2 separate regions of the Homo sapiens genome follow, and region 1 is linked to region 2. Evidence: fine-mapped QTL for protein levels in blood plasma. A gene starts in region 2. The other region holds a variant in brackets. All regions are shown on one strand. Distances are between the middles of the regions.

Region 1 (2,892 bases), 23 kb before region 2:
ACAGCCATGCATTGTCACTCTGCCTCCGGGACCCCAGCTTGGGAGCTGTGGGTCTGCCAGGTCCCACCTCCTCTGTCCCCCATGCCACAACCTGGGCTCCTGGCTACAGCAGGGCTCCAGGGACTCCAAATAAATGTTCAGTGACTGGCTCCAAGGATGACCGTGAACGTGTCCGAAGTGGGGCTTCCAAGGGACAGGTCTGGCCACCCAGACCTTTCCTAGCTCTCTTCCCTGCCCTGAGGCCCCAGCAGGACCCAGGACAGACGCAGTGGTCCAGGCTCCTATCGGCCTCTCCTGCAGACAGCAAGCACCGTGCAGCTTTGGCCTGGGCACAGACCCTGGGCCGGCCCCGGACAACCCCCAGCCCCCACAACCAGAGCCATGGGAATACCCAGCTGGTCCAGCCAGGGATCTTCGTAGAGCCCAAGTCTCAGAGCTCTGTGGAAGGGGCATCTCATGGGCCAGCACTTGGTCTCAGGTCCGCCTGGCCCCTGCCTGCCACTGTCCAGCTCCGGGGCCAGCCCTGAAACCCTGGTTACGACCCCAGCGGTGACAGCAGCAGGGCCTGGACCAGAGGCAGCTGCCACCGTGCCCTCAGCCGAGATGCGGGTTCCAGACCCGGAGTCCCCACCGGGGCCCAGACCGGAGGCAGCTGCCACCGTGTCCTCAGCCGAGACGCGGGTTCCAGACCCGGAGTCCCCACCGGGGCCCGACTGGAGGCAGCTGCCACCGTGCCCTCAGCCGAGACGTGGGTTCCAGCCCCAGAGTCCCTGAGGTGAGGCCACAGGCCCTGGACTCACTGCTGCTGCTCCCATGACTCAGTTTCCTCATCTGTAAAGGAAGGGGCTGGTGCAGATCCGAAGGGACCGCATAACCCTCAAGTAGCACCAGTCGGCCACCCCAACAGAGTGCGGCAGCAAAGCCCTCCCGGCCAGCACGCCCATCACTCTCGAGGCTCCTCCCTGGCCAGCCCCGGGACGTGTCCACCCTCGGGCACCTGGCCCCGGCCTCCCCTCCCCCAGGGCTGGCTTATCTCCAGGCCTCCTCCTGGTCCTTGTCTGAATCAGCCCAAGTCAGGGCCAGGCACGCCTCCCCTCTCTGGCTGGGACAGTCTCCCCACCCTGCCCCACGGGGCCCCACCCCTCTAGACTGGGGGCTGCCGACCTCACTGCCCCAACAGCAGCTGTTGGAGCCGCTGTGTCCAGCTGGGCTGGCCCAGCTGACAGCCGGCCAAGGGGCCTTCAAGGCCTGACCTGAGCCGGACCCTCATCAACAAGCCAGGCCTGAGCGCCGTCCCTCATGGTGCCCGTGCCTCGTTGTCAGCCTAGAGCTCTCAAAGGGGCACCTGGGTTCCTGTGGGCTTGTGCAGGCCTGGGGAGCAGTCACCTACCAGTTCCCCTGCC[G/T]TCAGCCTCCAGAAGACCCAGATCGGGGGTCAAGTCTCAGCTTGGCCATGGAGCTGGCTTGTTGGGCACCCATAGCATAGCTGTGGTGCAGGGGGTGGTGGTTCCACAGCTGAACCTGAGCTGCAGGTCCTGCCAAGCAGGGGCTGAGTCTCTCCCAAGATGAGAGCTGGGGTAGGTGGGCCAGGCCAGGGCTCAGCCTGGGTCACCCAGCACCCTGTCCCAGTGAGGGGAGAAGCCTGGCAGGTGGGCTGGGAAGTCCCTCCTGTGTCTTCTCCTGCCCTGGCCTGCCTGGTGGAGCCCGACAGTGCATACTTGGGTGCTCTTGCCTGCCCACCTCTGAGCTGCGGCACCCACGGAATGGCCGCAGCCGTCACCATTCCTGGCCCCCGCATTGGGTACTCGTCTGCCTGATGTCCCCGCAGAGGCACACATGGTGGATCTGTGTCCGTGCTCCCGGGCACACAGACCAGGAGGCCCGAGAGGCACCTGTGCACACGCAGGCACCAGCAAACACGGCAGACTCAGGTGCAGGCGCACGACATGACCCCTGGGGCACAGACGCTGCAGAGCAGGGCCCCAGTGGGTGGGGAGGGGTGTGAGCTGGGCAGCTGCCAGCCGTGAGCTCAGCCTTTGCTCTAGGGGAAGGGAGTAGGTGCCCATTGTGCCTGAGGTCCCCAGGGGCTGACGCGGTGCATCGCCTGGCACAGCCCGGGCCTCCCCCACAGGACTGCCTGGCGGGCGTCACCGTGGGAGTGGGACTGGGCGGGGCGAGGCAGTCTCATGCCGCCTGCCAGGCCAGGCATGGAGGTGAGCGGGGACCCCGGCATCCCCGCCCTGCACCGCCTCTGCACCCGGGCGCTCAGTGGTAGCGGCTGACGCACTTGGCGGGCTGGGATTGCGTCTGGATCACCTGGTCCACAACTCCCTGCCAGGAGCAGCCACCCCACAGCCTGGGCAGCACCTCCCTCCACCACACCCAGGGTTTCTGCTCAGGTGAGAAACGCTGGCGGGAGCCACCACCAGCCCACCCGCAGGGCCGGTCCCGGACCTGTGGCTGGGCCTGAACCTCTGCATTTGCCTCTGCATGGGGCAGCCTCCCTGTCTCCCTCCTGGGCCACAGTCAGGAGGCCCAGAGGTGCCCAAAAGCCATCAGGCTGGCTCCAGGAGGAGGCAGTGACCCACAGCAGTACCGGACTCCTCTAGGGTCCCTGGCCTTGCAGCTTCCATTTCCAGCATGGTTGAGGCTACCCCAGCTGCCACTGGGGGCTGGATGTCAGCGAAAGAGCCCAACAGCTGGGGCTCAAAGAGGGAAAGGGAGCTGCCAGGGCTGCCGGGTGTGGGGATGAAGCCAGGGCTGCACGAGGCTGCCTGGGGGACTCGCTGTTTGTTGGAAATCTGTTCATTGGAGACCCAGCAGCCCATGGGTCCCCTAGGCCCCGACCTGCAATAAGAAAGGCCCCAGGGTTTCACCCGGCTCCCGCTCCCTGCT
Region 2 (2,892 bases):
GGTAGGGGTGGGGCTCGCAGAAGAGGGAACTGGCTTCTACACTCACCCCTTTCAGGGAGGCCACCATGGCGGAGTAGAATAGAGCTGCCTCCTGAAAACCTTGGCCCAGGCCCGGTGGGTCCACCCACAGCTCAGAAATGGGGGTCACACGCTCATGCTCAGCAGCCCCATCCACAGGCAGAGCCTGCCTGGTCGGCCCGGCCACTGGGGAATGTCGCGGGGAGGCACACAGCCTCCGGGTGACAGACTCTACTCCCCCAGGCCCCAGAGGAAGTGGGGAGGCCCCTGAGGCTCTGAACACCTTGAGAAGGTGGAAGAAAACAGACCCCCCCCACAGCCAGAAAATGGGCAGTGAGTGGGACCCCCAGCCCTTGGGGTGCGTGAAGCCAGGAGGGAAACGTGGCCATCGGATCACAGGGGACCTGGGCACTCCCCACCCCAGCTCCATGTGACCCAAGGACCTCAGCACCTGGGATGGGGGCTCCCCGAGAGCCCGGCCCTTCCTGCTCTGAGGGGCCTCTGCAGGCCATGGGGGGCCCTGGAATCTGCATCCTTTACACCTGCAGGAGAGCTGGGCTGGGGCCGTGGAGGCACCTGCACTGCCTTAGGACTGCCGCTTCCAAACAAATGGGTCTGCGTGTGCCCTGCGGGGTGAAATCTGCGTCCAGCTGAAGCCTGACCATCGCTCTGGTGCTGGAAGCCCGGCCTGGGGCGGCCCCAGTTCTCCAGATGGAAGGTGCAGATTCCATCCACACCACAACAGGAAGAGCTCAAAGGTTGTTACTTACAGATCCCAGGGAGGGAGGCACCGTGGGTCCACCGGTAGCTCTCTGTCCGCGCGTCACAGCAGACGGGAGTGGCCGGCCAGGCAGAAAGAGGAGTGCGTGGCGCTGGCAGCGCCCATGAGGAACAGGACAGCCCCTTTCAGATCGCGGGCCAATGCCCACACGTGGGCCTCTAAAGGGCGATGTGAAAGGGGAAGCCCAGCCCCCAGGCCTCTGAGGCCTTCTGCGCAGTTGGGTAGGGAGCTTTACCCCTAACGCCCGGGCAGCCCCCAGCCCTCCAGGTCCCGAGTGGCCCCTCCCAGGTCTCAGTGGGCCCTGCCCAGGGTAACTCTGATGTGCAGGGTGATTGGCCACACCTGAGCCTCCTCTGCCTCGGTTTCCTCAATTGGGAAGTGGGGGTGGAGAGCCTGGCAGCCTCCCGGGCCGTCAAAGGGAACAAATGACGGCTTTGCCCGGGGCAGCAGGGAGTGGTGGCGCCTCACGCCCCAGGAATGTGTGGGTGGAGACCCCGCACAGGAGCCTTGGACAGGCAGCGGGCCAGGCCTGGGGGAGGAGGGATGCCCAGGAAGGCAAAGCTGCCCTCGGTGGGCGAGGGTGGGAGCCCGGGCCCAGGTTTCACGGCTGCCCTGGGTGGGTGTGGGGCATGTGTAGGAGCCCGGGCCCAGGTTTCATGGCTTCCCTGGGTGGGTGTGGGGCGTGGGTGGGAGCCTGGGCCCAGGTTTCACGGGATCCCACTCTGATTCTCAGGTGCTGAAACCCAGGGAGCACTGGCCCCCCCAGTCGCAGGTCAGCAGGCTCTGGATGGTGGCCACGCAGCCCAGACAGGACTCCCGGGAGCACAAGCCTGACCCCCAGTGCAGTGTGGGCCTCGCAAGGCTGTGAGCCGTCCGTCTCAGGGCTGTGGGAGCACACAGGTCAGGGAGGCAGGACGGGGCCCAGCTCCAGGCACACGCACACCCCTTTCTCGCAGGGTCGACTGGAACAGAGCTGCCCCCGGGCGCTCTCTGGCCTGGCGAAGTGGGAGCTGTCTTCCCTACGCATCTGGGCTGGCTGCCTGCTGCTGATGGAAGAGCTGCTCCTCCTGACCTGGGGCCACAGAAGCCCCCTCCCTGCCCCTGAAACCCCTCCCAGCATGTCGTGAGCTCTTATCCCCAGTACGGAATCTGCCTCCGCTATGAACACCTGCAAAGGTTTGTGTGCTGAACGGAGGTGTGCGCGGCGGTCATCTCTGGTCTCTCCACAGAGTGGGTTTTCTATCGTGACTCGCGGTGGAATCGGACCTTCACGCACACAGAATTCAGCAAGGCTGCCAGGTGTAAGCGTCAACTTACAAATGTCAAGAAGGGATTAAGGGCCTTTTAAAAACTCCCTTCCGCAGAGAACAACTGAAAAATTCCAGACACTCTTGTAGCAAACCAGTTACCCAAGGGCTCTGGGGAGGGGACAGAAGGCAGCCGGCTTGGGCGGGAACTCACAGGTAAAGGGAGAGGCCAGCTCCGAGTGGCGTTCCCTTTGTGTCCACACAGCTTTGCTCTGAAGGAGCCGCAGGTTGGCTGCGGGGCTGTGAAGTGGCCCAGGCTGCCACGGACACCCACAACTTTCCCGGCCAAAGGCCAAAGGAAACCAAGGAAGGAGCCCAGAATACTCAGGGCCCAGAGCTCGAGGAGAGGCCTGAGCCGGAGGAGCCAAGGAGGCGCCCACGTGCCCAGCTGAGCCCTGAACTGAAGGAGCCGAGGAGGGTCCAGGAAGAGCTCGGAGGGCCCCGTAGACACGGCTGAGCCCTGAACAGGAGCCTCAGAGGGGCCCATGTGCCCGGCTAAGCTCTGAACCAGCCGACTGCAAGCTGCGGACAATGATGAAAACGCGCTGTGGCCAGCCTGGGCTCACCCTTCAGCCAGCACCGTGGGAGGCCGATGCGGGAGGGTCCGTTGAGGCCAGAAGTTCAAGACCAGCCTGGGCAACGTAGTGACACCTCATCTCTATAAAGAATCTTTAAATGAGGCCCTGTGTGGTGGCGCACGCCTGTCATCCCAGCACTTTGGTAGGCCGAGGTGGGCGGATCACCTGAGGTCAGGAGTTCGAGACCAGCCTGGCCAACATGGAGGAA

Direction of the effects. Positions count from the first base shown, and alleles are read on the strand shown. Strength reflects both the effect of a copy and how common the allele is.
For the plasma level of the protein whose gene starts at base 1,229 in region 2, allele T in region 1 goes with a higher level than allele G (weak association).

The links. PIP is the posterior inclusion probability: the model's chance that the variant is causal. Protein levels are from antibody-based Olink assays in UK Biobank. Linkage for the fine-mapping came from a reference panel and not from the study's own genotypes, which makes the PIPs less certain.
Region 1: its variant is fine-mapped to the plasma level of the MSLN protein (UK Biobank, PIP 0.96).

Annotation. Positions count from the first base shown.
Region 1 is chr16:782,239-785,130 of GRCh38, reverse strand. It overlaps RPUSD1 (RNA pseudouridine synthase domain containing 1), which reads left to right. Exons shown (of 6, transcript NM_058192.3): 6 at 1-157. Among named protein-coding and RNA genes, the nearest start is that of RPUSD1, 4.7 kb to the left of the region's middle. The variant G/T (reference allele first, on the strand shown) is at 1,404.
Region 2 is chr16:759,071-761,962 of GRCh38, reverse strand. It overlaps MSLN (mesothelin), which reads right to left and starts at 1,229. Exons shown (of 18, transcript NM_005823.6): 1 at 1,142-1,229; 2 at 789-890. RefSeq lists enhancers at 1,273-1,291, 1,457-1,982 and promoters at 1,273-1,291, 813-1,293, 799-2,648.